Homo sapiens: one gene and its partners. The protein of the gene in region 4 interacts with the protein of the main gene of each other region in a pairwise test. Each region holds a gene or a part of one and is shown on either strand. Other genes may lie near its edges. The genes, in order: SYT7, CHL1, ADISSP, FERMT2 and CAPRIN2.

Region 1 (3,518 bases), on a different chromosome or scaffold from region 4:
CCCTTGGAAACACTTTCTCCAGGAATGGGGGTTTTGTGCTTTGCAGAGGGACCAGCTTAAGGAATCCCGTCTCAGGTCACCAAACACATCCTGTGTCCTCCCCTGATAATAACAATAGTATGATAATAGCAAGCCTTGTGGAGCACTCAGTATGTGCTGAGCACTTTACATATGTGCCTCCAGGGACAGCTTGCTTGAGCTAGGGCTCTAGTGTCAAACAGCTATTGATTTGAATCCTGGCAGAGACACTTGCTGCTCTGTCTCTGGAGCAGGTCAGCCCACCTCTCTGGCCTTGGGTTTCCTCTTCTGTTAAATGGGTATGATGATGGTTCTTACCTCCCAGGCGGTTGGAAGATGAGGTGAGATAAGGCAGAAAAAGTATTTAGCAGAGAGCCAGCCCATAGTAAACACTCAGCCAGCGGTAGCTGTTCTCAACATTGTCCTGTACCAAGCAATTGATGTGTGGGATGAGGGTTCTGGATCCTCCAAGGAGAACATGCCTGCTACCTCCATGGTGGAGGAGTTGGGGAGGGCTTCATGGAGGCAGTGTCAGTTAGGTTACCATCAGAATAGCAGAGACATGTTGTGTGCTCACTATGTGCCAGGTGCTGTTCTAAGCACATAACATGCGTTAGCGCCTCCATCCTCAGAACCACCTTGGGAAGTGCGAACTTGCAGTTAGAAGTAGGTCTGGGATTCCAGCCACGCTGCCAGACCTAAGGGTGTGAGCTTCAGATACAGGGCCTTGAGTCCTGAAGGAAGAATAAGAGCTTTGCCATGTGAGCGAGCAGAGGTGAGGCAGTTGGTGAGGTGGGGACAGCACATGCAGTGGCTCAGAGGTTCGAGGGATCTTGGCCGGTTGAGGCAGCAGGGAGTGCTTGAGCATGGCCAGAAGGGAGACCTTTGGGGCACAGTAGCAGGAAGTGAGGCTTGGGAAGGTAGGTTGGGCCAGATTATGAAGGAGTTGGCATTTTGAAATAGGAAAACTGAAATTCTTTTAAAAAGTAAGGCATGGAGTGCCATGGATGGCTTTTGAGCAGATCTCTATAAAGAACTTTGACAGCACGGTAGTGTGGAGGGTGGGAAGTCAGGAGGCAGGTGGGTAGATGGAGCTAGAATCTCAGCCATTAACATATCTGTCCCTACCTCTGCCAGGAGATCTGCAGTGTCCAGCCAGCCTGGACCCCTGCCCTTGGAAAGCTTGCAGCAGATTATAGGCAGTAAGGGGGTAGCCGGATGCAGGTGGGCATGAATGAACACCCTGAGGGGGCTTCCCAGGTGCCTGGGGTATCAGAGAAAGCCTCCCTAGTGAGGGATATAGAGCCAAGATGGGCAGGCCCAGGGCCCTGTGGACACAGTTAGTCCTTTTGAGGATTTGTTCTGTACCCACATAACCCCCCCAGGCATCAGGGCCAGGCCCAGGAGGGGCCACACAGCTCCTGCTCCAGCTGCCAGGCCTGAGCTCCAGAGCCCCACCAAAGCCAACCTGTCTCCATGGCAACTAGACGGGCCACCCCCCCTCTCCATGCCCACGGCCACTGGCACAGGGACCCATTCACAGCGGGGCCTGGTTATGTCTTCCCACTTCCCTTGGGGGTCATCCCAAGGCAAACGCCCTCACACTGAGGCGCTGGCAGCACACATGCATGTTGGCATTTGGGTATGTATGCACACATGATGTGTATGTGTGTGTGTCCTGCAGCAGGAAGCAGGGAGGTGGGGACCATCTGTGTTGACTACCCACCTTAGTTGGAAATTTGTTACCCCTGAGTGGGGGTCAGATGGGTGCCAAGGGCCCTGACGCCAGGATGAACTGTGGGCTCCTGTCTTGGAGATTGCAGTGAGAAAGCCAGCCCAGAGAAGGGGCAGCTAGGAGAAATGGAAGGTCAGGGAAAGCTGCAAGGGAGAGGCTCCCAGTGGTGCCTGGTGGGTCCACAGACCACCTTGTTCTTTCCATTCATCATGTTATGTCATCTTCACAGCAGTCTTGCAAGGGAGATATCCAATTCACTGCAGTGCAAATGAGGAAACGGAGACTCAGAGAGGTTGAGTGTCTTGCCCGGGTCACTCAGTAGAGCAGGAATAAGATTGCAAGTCGGCCTCACTCCAAAGCCTGGGTCTTAACCACTGGGCTACGTTGCCTGGTGCCTCCTTATCCTACTAGGCTCTAAGCCAGCCCGTCTCTCAGCCCGTCTCTCAGAAGGGAGCACTACGAGTTGGTACTGGCTGCAGAGCTGGACTCAAAGGGTGTCCCAGTGCCTCTTCTAATTCTAGGGTATCCCCTAAAGCCTTTGTTCTTCCTGGAGTGGAGGGGAGTCTCCTTCCTACCCTGTCTCCATTCTCTCTACTGGCAAGGTGGAGGGATCCTCTCACTCATGGGGGAGGCTCTCAGGAGAAGGGGAGGAACCCCTCTCTCCCTCCTTGGCACCTGCCAGCCCTGGAGGAGCCTGATGAATTGTCTGTGTGCCCCCCCCCCAACCTCATTCCTCCCTCTCCAGCCCCCGCCTGGTTGGGGAGGTGCGAAGGGAGTGATTTCACAGCCTGTCAGCTGAGGCCTAAAAATACCCAGAACTCTAAGATGCTTGGGCAGGGGGAGGAGAGAGCAGGGACCGGGGATAGGGTGGTGAAGGGTGCAATGGTAACTTGGTCAGAGGAGCCCAGGTGGCAACACAGTCCTGCTCAGGAATGATGGGAGACCCTCTGTCCCCAGGGTCCCCATCTGACCCCATACCTGGCAATGACAGAGAGGGCCAGTGTCTCGAGGGTCTTGAGAGCTCAGCTCTGGCACTCAGACCTAAGGGAGGGCTTAGTCTCAGATAGGAGCCATTGTGGACCCCAGGCCCCCTGGAGCCTCCAGTTGATGCCTTTCTCTCCCTCTCCACCCCCAGGTTGGCTGGCATCTTTGGGCCGTGGGAGCCAGGCTGTGCCTGAGTCTGCTTCCTTCCTGGAGAAGGTGCCCGCTTCTGCTAGGGGAGAGGCGTGAGGAAGGCAGTGTGGATGGGGGTGCCGGCAGGTGCGGGATGTGACGTGCCAGCCACCCAGGCACTAGAAGGAAGCAGAGGAGAAGGGGTGTGGTGGCCCACGTCACTGCCACATGGCTGTGTGCTGCAGCATGGCACATGGCCCCCACAAGTCAACCACTGCTCAGAGACGGGAACACGTGTATATGTGTGTGTGTGCATGGACCTGCTAGAGTCAGCTTGTTCTGGTGCTGGGATGCTTGTGGACATATGTGACCCAGCCTGGCTACTTCAGGTAGAAATTGGGTGGAGGCACAGGAGTGGGTGTGGGAGCATGAGCTAACACACCTCACTTCATGCAGATGCATGACTGTGTGTGTGCTTCCCATGTGGAAACACGATGGTAGGTGTGTCTGTGCAGAGGCACATGGGCACACATCGCTGGGGCGCCAAGCAGGGGCTGAGAGGGTTCTTAGGGAAAGAATGCAGAGTGGTGGCCAGGGCACAGGGGCTCTGGATCAAAAGTAATGAGGCTCAAATCCCAGATGTGCCTTGTGC
Region 2 (3,518 bases), on a different chromosome or scaffold from region 4:
AAGACAAATTTCAGCCAACATTTAAATACTGGAGATTTCATGTAAAATTCATATTTCTGGCTTATCTTAAAAGGATTGATGTTCTCACAGTATTGGACCTGAATGCCCAGGTGGCAGAATGCCACAGGTTAGAACCCAGTGGTTTGTCCCCTTGATGTTCTTGAAAGACATATCTTCGCTGGGTAAAACATGGCTTCCTCTCACCTTCACTTTGTTCCTTTCTTTTATATAGATCCTACTCCAAAGAGGTAATTAAGGGACCTTAAAGACGGGCCCACATCTCTTTGGATGGGATTAGGGGAAGCCCACAAGGGCTGCTGAAGCACATCTGGAGCTGTTACTGCCCCTTGTCCTGAAGGGATAATGGGAAGGTGAAGTTCCTGGAAGGAGGTGGGAGCAGTAGCTCTGGAAGAGGGCTGTCACGTGGGACCTATGGCTTTTGGTAGAGGAACATAACTACTGTCAAATCACAAGACAGTGCTCTGCTTCTACCCCAAGATTTCCAGTTGCTTCTTCAGCAAGGCAGTAAGACGGCAAGGGAGCCTATTGTAGTGGTTTGTGGAGGTCAGTTCTCCCAGAGCAGAGCAGGATGGAGGAAGGCAGAAAAGGGATCTGAATCTGGGAAGTACGTGAGGAATACCTAGCACATCTTGAAGGCTTTACATTTGTGGAACGTGAGTAGTGGGGAAGGGGAAAGCTAGAATTGACAAAAACAGTACAAAATAGGGAATCATTAAGTTTGTATTCAGGAGAATCTTCACCACTTTTTCTTTGTCATTCCTTTCTTCTTTCTTTCATTGCCCGAAGTGGGCATGCTCATATTCAGTGGTGTGTTTCAGTTGGGACTCTTAAACTTCAAAACAAATTTGTCCATTTCATTGCATTATCTATGCTTTCTAAGATGAGAGCTGACATAGCAGAGAGAATAATGTAAAAGATGTATTCCAGCTTCTATGGTAATGGTTGGCATTTTTAGCAGAGGTTCCTCCCTAACAAAAGCTTTTGCTGTAAGTGGTGATTCTCCTGGGAGGGATTGTAGTTATGATGCCTGGGAAAGCGGAGATACACTCAAATGTCAGTCTGGCAGCTGAAACTCATGTAACCTGGATGCCTGGATCTTTGGAGGAAGTATCCTTCTTCTTTGTTATAGTTGTATCAGAACAAGGACGATGAAGGAATAGACCAGAATGCACTGGTTGCATCTTAATGTGAGGAATTTTTATTTCCAGGGACTAAGAGATGTATTTCCCAGAGTAATAGAATGTAAGTGGATAAAAGGAATGTGGGGATTTTGATGATCTGTTGCGGTTAGAGTTGTTGGAAGTTCGGTTTTTTATTGCATTGAAAACCTTGCTAAAAACTGTAAAGTGACAGAATATTAGCTTATTATGGGATGCCTTACATATTGGTTATGTTCAAAAGAAATAACACGTCTCATGTGCAAAAGGTTCAGGGGGAAGATAAATACTGACCTTTTCCAAGACTGATACTGGATGCTGCATTTCCATCCTTTCAGAAGATTGCCTCTGAAGATTTCTATTTTAAAAAAAAATCATAATGTCTTGCATTATTTGTGTGCTTTATGCTTTTTAGAAAATTTTTCCATGTCATCTCATCTGACTTTTACAATAACATAGTGAACAAAAAGAAACAGGTTGTTAGCCCATTTTATAGATGAAAAAAACTAATGCAAGGTCAAGTAGTTAGCTTTACCACTATTCCACCACACTGCCTACAGTAGTGAAAATTAGAATTAAATCATCTTAGATATCCTAATTTGTAACCCAGTTCATAGCCCACTCTATTGCTTTCAGGTTTTCTTTTTCCTTTTTCTTTCTTTCTTTCTTTTTTTTTTTTTTTGGAGATAGGGTCTGGCTCTGTTGCCCAGGCTGGAGCGCTGGAGTACAGTGGTATGGTCATCGCTCACTGCAACCTCGAACTCCTGGGCTCAAGTTATTCTCTCACCTCAGCCTCCCAAAGTGCTGGGACTACAGACGGGCACCATCATGTCTGGCTAATTTTTAAAATCTTTTTTGTAAAGGTGAGGTTTCACTATGTTGTCCAGGCTGGTTTCAAACTCCTGGCCTTAGGTGATTCTCCCACCTGCCCCTCTCAAAGTACTGGGATTACAGGCATGAGCCACCTTACACAGCCCAGATTTCCTTTTTTGGAAGAAAAGAGCAACATTGTATAACTGATAGTGAATTGTTTTTTAAGGAAATCTAGAGTCACCGTATAAACTGAGAGCTGTCTAGGGGAAAAATTGAAAATGTTACCAGTTATATTTTGAGAGTTGAACGTAGTCCTGGCCAAAGATAGGGAGATAGACTTTTCCAAAGCATCCTGAATTCTATAATACATGTTCTTATGTTTGTGTGTGTCTGTGTGTGTGTGTGTGTGCGCGCGCACGTGTATGTGTGGGTCCTATGAGGCATTGTGACCAGTCATTATAAAAAGCTTTTATTGATCGCCACTTTGTGCTAGAGACAGGAATGAAACTGTGCCAGGCAGATACTTAAATAGCCACCATTGATCATTTATCAAGTGTTTATTATGTGTTTTGCAATCTCCACATCAGTGATTTGAGGAAAGTACTATTATAACACCCAATGTAAGCTGGGCGATGCAGACACAGAAGGGTCCTTGTCCAATGTCACACAATATGTCTTGCAGTACCAGAGTCAGAATTCAAACTCAGAAGTGTCTGATTTCCAGCCCCAGCAGTGCCCCCTCGATTAGCAGGATTCTCCAGCTATGGTCTTCACTATGGACTAACACTCTTTCCTGTTGTCCATCCAAACTTACCTGTTCTGTGTCCCATTATCCATTTGTGGAAAAGTAGACATAAAGGAATCCTACTGAGGTATTAGATGATAATGCATACCTATTCCAGGAATGGTGGCATTAAATATGAGGTTTTAAAACCTGCCAGAGGTGGTGGTGCAAGCCTGTAATCCCAGCACTTTGGGAGGCTGAGACGGGTGGATCACTTGAGGTCAGGAGTTTGAGGCCAGCCTGGCCAACATGGTGAAACTTCGTCTCTACTAAAAATACAAAAATTAGCTGGGCATGATGGCATGCCTGTAATCCCAGCTACTCAGGAGGCTGAGGCAGGAGAATCACTTGAACCCAGGAGGCGGAGGTTGCAGTGAGCCTAGATCGCACCACTGCACTCCAGCCTGGGTGACAGAGCGAGACTGTCTTAAAAAAAAATCTTAATGCAACTTTGGGAGGCTGAGGCTGGAGGATCACTTGAGGCCAGGAGTTCAAGACCAGCAACACAGCAAGACTCCATGTCTACAAAAAATATATAAATAAATAAAAATAAAAATTAGCCAGGTGTGGTCGGGCATGCCTATAGCCCCAGCTACTTGGGAGGCTGAGGTGGGAGGATCATTTGAGCCCAGGAGTTGGAGGTTACAGGGAGGAGACATTTGTGTTCTCTCCAAAATCAAGTCATATAAGCGTCTAATGGTCTGACTCTTCCTGTACCAGACCCTGGGCATCATTATATGTAC
Region 3 (3,518 bases), on a different chromosome or scaffold from region 4:
CTCCCAAGTAGCTGGGACTACAGGCGTGCGCCACCACGCTCAGCTAACTTTTGTATTTTTAGTAGAGACGGGTTTCGACCCATTGGCCAGGCTAAACCTGGGCCCCTTTTGAGCAGCGCAGCAGACCCCCCACTCAGGGCCATCTCAATGGGCCAGACCTCCCCCGACCCAAGGGCACTCCTGTTCAACTCTGGACCCCTGATTTATTGACCAACCTGAAGGCCTCAGTCTCCATTTTCCCCAATCCAGCTCCACCAAGCAGAAAACAGGGGGTGATAATACTACTTCAAAGAGCCTAACTGAGCCAGAGATTTGGCAAAGAAGGGTTAAAAAAAAAGTTGCACCTTGTTATTGCCATAGTTAGCTTCACACCTGTATCACATACATACATTCTTCCATTCTCACACCAACTCTAGGGGATGTGATTGTCTCCACTTGAGAGAAAAGAAACTCAGGTGACCTTCCCAAGGTCACAGAGCCAGAATGGCTGGCCTAGACCTGAACTCAGGCCACTGGCACCACAGCCACGACACTGCCTTCCATTGCTATTGTCTGGGTGAAGCAGATGACAGCAGTGGCTCTGCTCATCTTGATCTGGATGACATTCTAAATGCTCTCATCTCATTGAAATCTCACTGCCTCCCATCTGACAGATGGGGCAACCAAGGCACAGGGAAAGGCACAGACATGCCTATAAGCCCGGCTGAGAGGAACGGGGATAGGCACCCAGAAGCCAGGCAGAGCCGGGGAGGGGAAGAAGCTGCTGATGGGGTAGGTGTGCATGTACCTTGACCAGAAAGCTGCTGTCACTCTCCTGGGTGACCATGACCACCGAGTCATGCAGCTTCTCATCAAAGTGGACGTGGCTGTGGGATCCTTCTGCATCGTGGCCTGCCGCAAAGCGGATACTCCGGACTCTGGGCTTGTTGCCTAGGAAGAGTGGGAGAGGGCTCTGAGGGCTTTCCCTGTCCCCAGGAAACTCCTCCCCCTTGTCCCCTCGTCACCCCCAAGACTGCCCTTGACATCATCCAGCTCCCACTGGCTGGGCTCTTTTCAGGGCTAGATGGACACTAGGATCATGAGGCTTGAGGCCTCCCCGCCGGCCCCGACCTGCCCCTCCCACAAAAATCCATCCCCTGAGAGTGAGCGTGGGGGGACTCAGGGACTGGCTAATATGACCCTTGCTTGGAGGGGGTGGGGCTGGTGCCAGAGCCAGGAAGGGACAGTCTTCCAGACTCCCACCAAGCCAGGGCAGCGTGGGACTCAGCCCAGTCCTCTGGATACCCTGCCCAGTGCTCTCCTTCACAGTGCAAAGCTCCCCATCCCTGGGGCCTACCCCTAAGCTGTGTCAGTGCATGAGGCCCCTGCCTGCCCATCCTCATGACCCAAACCTGAAAGGGCAGGGACAGGAACAGGCTCTGGGGGATCTGCCTGGGGTGGCAGAAACAGGGGGGATCAAAAAACACACTCAGGCCACCTGGGCGAGGCTGCAGCTGCCAGTAAACCTCACTGGCCCCTGGCAGCAAGAAGAGAGAATCCAAGGAAGCTTCCAGACCCACCTCAAGACCCCCTTCCTTCCTCTGTCTAGCCCACCATCAAGGCCCTCAGCTGTCTCTGAGCTGGGTCGGGTTCTCCAAGGCCAGAAAGGGCAGACGGATGAGACAGGCAGGGTAGGCGGGAGCCGAGCTGAAGGCCTGGACTGGATGAATGCTCAGGCTGTAGAGGCCGAGAGCACGGCCCTAGTCCTCTCTGACCCCTGGCCCCTAGGCCCTCCCACCAAGAGCCCTGCCCAGGGTCCTCTTGGCGGGAGGACCTGATCCAGCTTTGAGCCGGCCTCTTGGATACTCGGAGGCCCAGGGGACCAGCCTGGCACATCCACAATCCCTGGTGAGCCCCACAGAACCCTCAAATCTCACCAGATCACCCTGGCCTAAAACCCTCCCTTATCCCTTCTGGACTCTGAAAGAAACCCAAACTCCCTTCCACAGCCTGCTGTGGCCCTCCCACATCACCAGTCTCAGTGCTCACCATAAGCCCCTCGGCTCCCCCAACCCCCACAGTGGAACGGCAGGGACACAAGAGCACACACCTCCACAGACCAGCCTAAGGAGTCAGCAGGGCTCTGCAGGGGTCCTGCTAGGGCTTGCGTGAGCCCCAGAACCTGGCACAAACACTGACATAGTCCCAATCACATTCGCACACCAGCACACACGCACTCACACATGCACACACACACACACAGGTGGTGCGGGCCCTACCTGCAGCAATGGCCCTCCTACCAGGGCCCACCGGAAGAGCTTGTGCAAGTCCTACCACGCCAGGAAGGCACTTACCCTTGTTGGCTGCAGCCATGGACGCCCTCCCTGCCACGCAGCTCCTGCCAGACACCGCCACTCACGCTCAGCAGCCTCCCATGCTCCAGGGACACCAGCGGGAGCCTGAAGGATAGGGAGTGGGGAGGGCAGGGGTCAGGGCCACTCATGGACCCATGGCTCAGGGACACCAGAGGAGCTCCCTTTAGGAAGGACTCAAACCCCTACCGCTCTCAGCAGCCCAAGTGGTGCCTGTACTCTCTAGCACGGGGGCTTCTGCCCACCCTCTACCGACTGCCCACATTCACCAAGAGCCCTCACCCCTTCCTGATACCCCAGTGACTCAGGGTCCTGCCAGCATGTGCTGAGCTGCAGCTTCTAGGTGCCAAAGCAACAGCATAGGACTCCTATCCCCAGCACCCCCAGAGACTGGCAGGAGGGGCAGCCTGGAAAGGAGGACTTTATTGGTATTTTCCAGGGACCAGTTCTGGTGCTGCTGACCCCAAAGGCTGGGCCTGGAGCTACCTTATTCAGGTCACACAAGCAATGCAGCTGGGTGCGGTCAGAGGCAACAGGGTGCTCGATGGTGGGCAAGAACAGGGGACCACATAAAGTAAGCGTGCCCTTAGAGCTTTCCCTCCTGGTGATCGGTCAGGGCCATATGCAAAACAGATGCCTGTGGAGGGGGTGTGCCCCCACCTGAACCCCATTCAGACCCTGCCCTGAGTCTCAGGCCTGCCTCCGCCTCAGCTCCCCAACGGCAGCCTCAGCACAGGGGCAGTGAGAGGCGCCCCAGGAAGCCTCCAATGGGCCGAGCTGGGACCATCTGAGCATCAAAAAGAATAATGAGTGCAACTGATGGAAACAGATGGAACACATAAAAGCAGTGCATTCACAGAGATTATTAGAAAAGAAGAGAGAAAGCAAAACAAACAAACCCAAGCCCTCAAAAGCCCTCATTTGTCACCACTGACGGTAGCAGTGCCCTCTTTACTCTGAAAGCTGAGGATTAAAGAGGAAGAATTCAGCCTGTCTCTTGGCCTTTCTTGTAACCAAATTGCCCTGGTGGTTGATGGAAAGCTCTTCTTTCGGAAAGAATTCTTGCTAATAAATAACAAAGAAATGACCAAATGCTAAGTCATTCTGCAACCCCTAAAGGAACAAATGCTGGAGGCAACAAGAACCAGTGGATGCTAAACCAGAGGG
Region 4 (3,518 bases):
ATAGAACCCTGCAGATCACCCATGTTTAAGAGACAGGGCAGGTTAGAAGAAGGGGACCTTGCAAAGGAAACAAAAAAAAAATGCATAGGAAGACTATGGCAGTGAAGTATGATGAAAGCTAAGATAAAAGTTGTTTCAAAAGGACAGAGTAGTCAACAATGTCCAGTACTGTAGTAAAGTAAGGTAGTTAGGCCAACATAGTATCTAGCCATGTAGTTCATGACCTTGATAAGAACAAGTTAAGTAGACTTCAGTGGTTTATTGAGTATGGAGCCAAAGTACAGTCACTGAGAAGTAAATAAGAAACAAAAATGGCTGGGCACGGTGGTTCATGCTTATAATCCCAACATTTTGGGAGACCAAGGCAGGTGGTGGATTGCTTGAGCCCAGGAGTTTGAGAACAGCCTGGGCAACATGGTGAAACCCTGTCTCTATTTAAAAAAAAAAAAAAAAAGGAGGCAAAGCTTTTTAATGAACTTTATCTATGACAAGGAAGGGGGAAAGAGGTAACAGAAAAGGGAGGTAGGTTGTGGTGTAAGATGGGAGAGACTCAAGGAAATTAAATGCTGGTGGAAATGTGGCAGTAGAAAGAAGGAAATGTAGTGTCTGAGAGGGAGGATCTCAGTGGTGGAGCAGGGTTGCTCGGATGGTAATGAACTCAGCCCACTTGGATAGGAAAGCTGGAGGATGAGGGATGCCTCTTGCACTGCGTGGAAGCAAGGACAGCTAAGTTTATCTTGTACGGTGGCAGGAAATGGATGGACTTAACTTCTGGTGGCTTTCATTTTCTTGGAGACATAAGAGGTGGAGTTGTCCCTTGAGACCAAGTGACATTGTAGGATGTCTGAGAAGATTTGAAATAGGCATTGTTGAAAATGTCTGTATAAGCACAGAAGGATGCAAGCATAAAGGGCCCAGCTGAGGTTGGTATCCATGAATCTGTAGTGAAACCTTTTTTTCTTGCTTCTTCCCATCTTGCAGTGCTAAGCAGCCTGAGTATAGGCAAGGAAAAGTTAGAGGGATTTATTTACCTAGGGTGCAGATTTTGCTAGGAGAATGTATAATGTGAAGACAGTGAGTCTCGGCAGTTGGAGTTGATGTCCAGTGAATGTGGTCCAGGCTGGTTGGGAAGGAGGGAGCTGTTGCTTCCTTCTGTTGCTGTTGGGGAGAAAGTGGAGGGGTTGCAGCATAGGGTTCCTCAAAGAGTTAGGATTAGAGATTGTGACCAGAATTGGCTGTTTGCATTTCATCTTTCAGATGTACACTAATTGGGTAACTGAGGAAGTCCAGTGGTTGCCGTGGAAGTAGGTAGCTGAGGTGGCATGGAATGGGTGTTTGAGATGTGGCCCCTGTAGGCCTCTGAGCCTACACTAGTGCCTGAGTTACCACCCACTTTGTCTCTCCCTGTTTAGTTTTCTTGTTTTTTTAAAAGAGGCCTAATTATTATGGAATTGTGTACTGTAAATCCTCTTGAATTATTAATGATATTTGTGCAAAAGATTGTGTACTTTCAAACAACTGTTTCAACTTTGCACATTAAACAGTTCGTCACACATGTTCTCATCATTCTAAAGCCTGTATAAAAGGAGATATAAAAGAAGAAATTCATATGTAGTAAATATTTTAAAAAGAAAACAAAGGGCAGGGGGGAATCTACAAAATTCATGGTAGGAGTTGCTTCTGGGGAGGAGAATAAAGAGGGCCTCTCCTTTATCTAAAGTGTTCTTTTTATTTAATACTAAAATATTTATGTAGACAGGGAAAATGACAATTTTAACATTTGTTCTTCTGAATATGGAGTGTGTATGATCTTATATTCTGTGCCAAGAGGAATTGAAAAAGCAAGCCCTACTAACAATTTAAAATTTTCTTCGTAGAGCCTACTGCATGATCATATGACATTGTGCTTTGTTCATGTCATTCTTGGACAATTGGAATAAGCTTTAGGAAGCTTTGACAGTGTATTATCTTATTTATCCTTAAATCATCCCTGTGAGGTAGAGTCCAAGGTCAGGAAATGTCGACTTACAGAAGTTAAATGGCCCATAATTATTATTAATAAGTGACAAAGAAAGGTCTGCAACCCAAGTCTCTCTGACTGCAGAGCTCTACTTCACTGTATTTATTATACTGTTACTACTTGTTTATGCCAGCTGTTATGCCATTATCTAACACCTAGTTCAGTAAATCTGCACTCCCTTCTGTAAAGCCTCCTACAAAGTGAAATTCTGAAGAGAGAGTTTCGCTTTTGTTGCCCAGGCTGGAGTGCAACGGTGCGATCTCAGCTCACTGCAACCTCCACCTCACAGGTTCAAGTGATTCTCCTGCCTCAGCCTCCCAAGTAGCTGAGATTACAGGTGTCCACCACCACCCCCGGCTAATTTTTTGTATTTAGTAGAGACATGGTTTCACCATGTTGGTCAGCTGGTCTCAAACTCATGACCTCAGGTGATCCGCCCGCCTCGGCCTCCCAAAGTGCTGAGATTACAGGCGTGAGCTACCACACCTGGCCTGAATACAGTTGTTTTCATTCCAGCTTCCCAAGTATATGTGTATGTTACCTTCTGCAGCAGATGCCTTCATAAAATACTATGGCAAAATCCAACATGTTAAGATGCCACAGAATGAGGGCTGCTTGTATTGACTTGAGATTTCTTAAAAGTAAATTTAGCCATTTTAATAAAAATTTTTTGTTACAGGATGTGAAGTTACCCCAGATGTAAACATTTCAGGCCAAAAATTTAACATTAAACTCCTGATTCCAGTTGCAGAAGGCATGAATGAAATCTGGCTTCGTTGTGACAATGTAAGTTTTCCAGTTAAAAATACACTTCAATTTTCTTAAATGAGTTGACCAGTCATCCTTATATTTTATACTTGAAAGACCCACCTCGTGATACATTGCACACATCAGTATTTCTTTTCTCCAGGAAAAACAGTATGCACACTGGATGGCAGCCTGCAGATTAGCCTCCAAAGGCAAGACCATGGCGGACAGTTCTTACAACTTAGAAGTTCAGAATATTCTTTCCTTTCTGAAGATGCAGCATTTAAACCCAGATCCTCAGTTAATACCAGAGCAGATCACGACTGATATAACTCCTGAATGTTTGGTGTCTCCCCGCTATCTAAAAAAGTATAAGAACAAGCAGGTACTTACTTCATTTTACTTCATCTACTGTGCTGGTTTGTTTTTATAATTTTGTACATAACTTTGTTTTTCCCCTCTTAAACAAAACTTTTTAGTCTTAATTTTGTATCAGATGGTTAGAATATAAAATACAGTTAGAGTATCCCTAATCTGAACCTCTGAAATCCTCCAAAATCTGAAACTTTTTGAGTGCCAACATGACTCTCAAATGCTCATTGGCACATTTTGGATTTCAGATTTGGGATCCTCAACTGGTAAGTATAATGCAGATATTCCAAAATCCAAAAAAATCTGAAACCCAAAATACTTCTGGTCCCAAGAATTTTGGATAATGGATACTCAATCTGTAGAAAATAAAGTAACCTTT
Region 5 (3,518 bases), on a different chromosome or scaffold from region 4:
TCAGGGGAAAAAAGTGCTAAAGTCAGTAAAGAAAATATACTTTTAAAATTATCATTTGCCTGGGGAAGAAATACTTTGAGCAAGTGGCACTTCTGCTTTTGTTTACCAAAGTTGGATTTATTAAAGAAATACCTCTTCTCAGGAGGTAGTCCAGGCAGGGTTCTGGTAGCCATAAGCAAGAGCGAAACCATTTTCCATGTTTATTTCCCCTTAGTTCTTAATACTAAGTGCAGTGCTTAAGTATCTCCACTCTCTTATCCCCTCCTAACCTTAAACTGGCTTGTAAGAGGTTTTTAAGGGCTCTATTTCAAGCTGAGATGACCAATTTTTACCCCATGGGACATGAGCTATAATGCTAACTTGAAAAAAAGCTGTGTTTTAGGGTAAGAAGAAATAGTGTTATTTTCAATCAGATATCAGTTTTAAACTGAAACTTGACTTTCGTAAAGTGTCTTACATAAGGAGAGCTACTAGTTTGAACTAGCCTCAGACCACATGCTTTGGACTAACAAGGAATATAATTCCTCTTGCCATCAATATACTTGATTATATTACCCTTTTTCTGTTACGAGTCTTCTGAAATATGTTGCTAGAATGAATTATAGTTGTAATCTGTCTAAAAACTTACAGTTCACCTAGTATTTATTCAGATTCTTTTTATCATCCCAGAGTCTCTAATGGAATTTGCCCAGCCAGAGATACAACCACAAGAGGTAAGATACTGAAAGACAATTTGCTGATGTTGATTTTTCAGCCTTTTGCATAGGGTTATGGTTGGAAGCTAAGGCTCTGGAGCCAGACTGCCTGAGCTTGAACCCTGGTTCTGCAGTTTACTAGCTTAGGGACTTTGGGCAAGAAATCTGGTCCAGCTGTGTCTGTTATCCTCATATGTAAAATAGGGATAACGTTAATGACTACTTCATGGGGTTATTGTGAGGATTAAAGAGGTTGATCTAAATTCTAAATTACTTAGAATTTGGTCTGGCACACGAACTGCCCAAATGATAGCTATTTTTGGCTCCTGTGTTAGAGGAACTTTAAGATGCGCAGGACTTTGCTCTCTCCAGAATTTACTCACATTGGTAGCAGAAAAGGGTATTTGTTCTCTTTCTGAAGTGACATTGAAATTCATGGGAAGCTGAAAAGAATGGGAGATTCAAAAACAGTGTCATTGATGTATAAGGGAAATAAAGAAAACACTGGTAACTTAGGAAATGTCACGTTTAAGGTTACATAATTTAACTTTGAAGTTGAACTATCTTCTGCCTTTTAATGTTTGAGGGAGTCAACTGGGGAGAATGGTCCTAAGGCTGGCAAAGGCGGAACAGCCTTGGTAGAAGAATCCGAATCAAGCAATTCTTGCCAGTCTTAGGCAAGTCCAACAGAAGTTGCTACTTTTGATGTATCGAAGTCTGTATTTCTGTTAATTGAGGAAAAAGGAATGGACAGAAAAGTAGGAAAGTAGGAAAGAGAAGTAGGAAAGTCTTTTCAAGTAGAATAAGGACAGAAATTTAATATTAGTGCAACAACTTAGATCAGAGGACATAGCAATACTAATAGAGTTGAATATTCCCTCCAAGGTCTTCTATGAATTTTGTGACTTAAGTGCATTGTTTCTCTATCTAGTTTCTTAACAGACGCTATATGACAGAAGTAGATTATTCAAACAAACAAGGCGAAGAGCAACCTTGGGAAGCAGATTATGCTAGAAAACCAAATCTCCCAAAACGTTGGGATATGCTTACTGAACCAGATGGTCAAGAGAAGAAACAGGAGTCCTTTAAGTCCTGGGAGGCTTCTGGTAAGCACCAGGAGGTATCCAAGCCTGCAGTTTCCTTAGAACAGAGGAAACAAGACACCTCAAAACTCAGGTCTACTCTGCCGGAAGAGCAGAAGAAGCAGGAGATCTCCAAATCCAAGCCATCTCCTAGCCAGTGGAAGCAAGATACACCTAAATCCAAAGCAGGGTATGTTCAAGAGGAACAAAAGAAACAGGAGACACCAAAGCTGTGGCCAGTTCAGCTGCAGAAAGAACAAGATCCAAAGAAGCAAACTCCAAAGTCTTGGACACCTTCCATGCAGAGCGAACAGAACACCACCAAGTCATGGACCACTCCCATGTGTGAAGAACAGGATTCAAAACAGCCAGAGACTCCAAAATCCTGGGAAAACAATGTTGAGAGTCAAAAACACTCTTTAACATCACAGTCACAGATTTCTCCAAAGTCCTGGGGAGTAGCTACAGCAAGCCTCATACCAAATGACCAGCTGCTGCCCAGGAAGTTGAACACAGAACCCAAAGATGTGAGTTGATCTGTATCATTCTGCTTCTGTAAGTGTAGGCATAAATAAGGTGTCGTGGTAATGACTTTTTAGTTCTCTTTTTTTTTTTTTTTTGAGATGGAGAAACACTCTGTTACCCAGGCTGGAGTGCAGTGGCACTATCTCTGCTCACTGTAACCTCCGCCTCCTGGATTCAAGCGATTCTCTTGCCTCAGCCTCCTGAGTAGCTGGGACTACAGGCGCATGCCACCACACCTGGCTAATTTTTTTGTATTTTTAGTAGAGACGGGGTTTCACTGTGTTAGCCAGGATGGCCTGGATCTCCTGATCTCGTGATCCAACCGCCTCGGCCTCCCAAAGTGCTGAGATTACAGGCGTGAGCCATTGTGCCCGGCCTTAGTTCTCTTCAAAGCCCATGTGAAGTTAATGTATAAAATATTTCACCCTCTTTAGTGGGTAGATTTATTGTTTTCCCTTGAAAACTGGGAGTTAATCTAGTCTGTCTTTAAGTCTAATCTGAGATGAAATTTCTGCAATTATAAAATGTTGTTTTAATGCCAAATTTTAACAATATAACATGATATGAAAATAGTAGATAGTTTAGATAAGACCATAATGACATAATGTGAACAAGTGAGTAATGCAAATGCTTGTCACAGGATGGGAGATACTGTATTTCATTTGTTGTCATTTACCTGCTATACGAATAACTTTTTCTGACAAGTTATATTTTTCTATATTCTCTTGCTTCTCTTCTACTCATTTATGGTCACTCAGTTTAGCCCAGGTCTTTATGAAGAAGGTTTATGGTGGTTGCAGATATTTCAGTATTGGGGGAAGGATTTGAATTAGTTCTCTATTTCCATTTCAAAATGAGAATTTTTCCAAAGATAGGAAAACTGTTGGCATTAAATATTTTGTAGTTAGGTTTTGGAGAACAAGATTCAGTTAAAACATAAGGCCACATTCTTTTAAGGATAAATAACCTGTTTCAGGTAGATAACACTTACATTGAATAATTCTTGGGTACAGTGCTATGTTAGGGTTGCCTTTTATTAAATTGTAAATTACTTATTTACTACTATTTATAATGCAAACTTGTTACCACCTCATTTGCTGAGATATGTGAACTTGTGCTTCCAGTGTTCTCTATCTCTATGGAGTAGTCTTCCTTGCACATCTGTGCCATTTTAGCTAAAGGCTTTCTGATAAACCATTGGACCTCTAATATAATA

What was found.
Region 1: the proteins of FERMT2 (region 4) and SYT7 interact in a two-hybrid assay, tested with the Homo sapiens proteins (one large-scale study listed by IntAct).
Region 2: the proteins of FERMT2 (region 4) and CHL1 interact in a two-hybrid assay, tested with the Homo sapiens proteins (one large-scale study listed by IntAct).
Region 3: the proteins of FERMT2 (region 4) and ADISSP interact in a two-hybrid assay, tested with the Homo sapiens proteins (one large-scale study listed by IntAct).
Region 5: the proteins of FERMT2 (region 4) and CAPRIN2 interact in a two-hybrid assay, tested with the Homo sapiens proteins (one large-scale study listed by IntAct).

What each region holds. Positions count from the first base shown.
Region 1 is NC_000011.10:61,571,075-61,574,592, reverse strand, and holds part of SYT7 (synaptotagmin-7), read left to right. Parts: intron 1-3,518. UniProt on the Homo sapiens protein: Ca(2+) sensor involved in Ca(2+)-dependent exocytosis of secretory and synaptic vesicles through Ca(2+) and phospholipid binding to the C2 domain.
Region 2 is NC_000003.12:203,260-206,777, forward strand, and holds part of CHL1 (neural cell adhesion molecule L1-like protein isoform 1 precursor), read left to right. Parts: intron 1-3,518. UniProt on the Homo sapiens protein: Extracellular matrix and cell adhesion protein that plays a role in nervous system development and in synaptic plasticity. Both soluble and membranous forms promote neurite outgrowth of cerebellar and hippocampal neurons and suppress neuronal cell death.
Region 3 is NC_000020.11:3,757,749-3,761,266, forward strand, and holds part of ADISSP (adipose-secreted signaling protein), read right to left. Parts: intron 2,439-3,518; 5' UTR 2,353-2,438; coding exon 2,334-2,352; coding exon of another isoform or gene 2,259-2,333; intron 931-2,258; coding exon 788-930; intron 1-787. UniProt on the Homo sapiens protein: Adipocyte-secreted protein (adipokine) that acts as a key regulator for white adipose tissue (WAT) thermogenesis and glucose homeostasis at least in part through activation of protein kinase A (PKA).
Region 4 is NC_000014.9:52,864,035-52,867,552, reverse strand, and holds part of FERMT2 (fermitin family homolog 2), read left to right. Parts: intron 1-2,699; coding exon 2,700-2,806; intron 2,807-2,930; coding exon 2,931-3,152; intron 3,153-3,518. UniProt on the Homo sapiens protein: Scaffolding protein that enhances integrin activation mediated by TLN1 and/or TLN2, but activates integrins only weakly by itself. Binds to membranes enriched in phosphoinositides.
Region 5 is NC_000012.12:30,727,434-30,730,951, reverse strand, and holds part of CAPRIN2 (caprin-2), read left to right. Parts: intron 1-669; coding exon 670-713; intron 714-1,626; coding exon 1,627-2,304; intron 2,305-3,518. UniProt on the Homo sapiens protein: Promotes phosphorylation of the Wnt coreceptor LRP6, leading to increased activity of the canonical Wnt signaling pathway.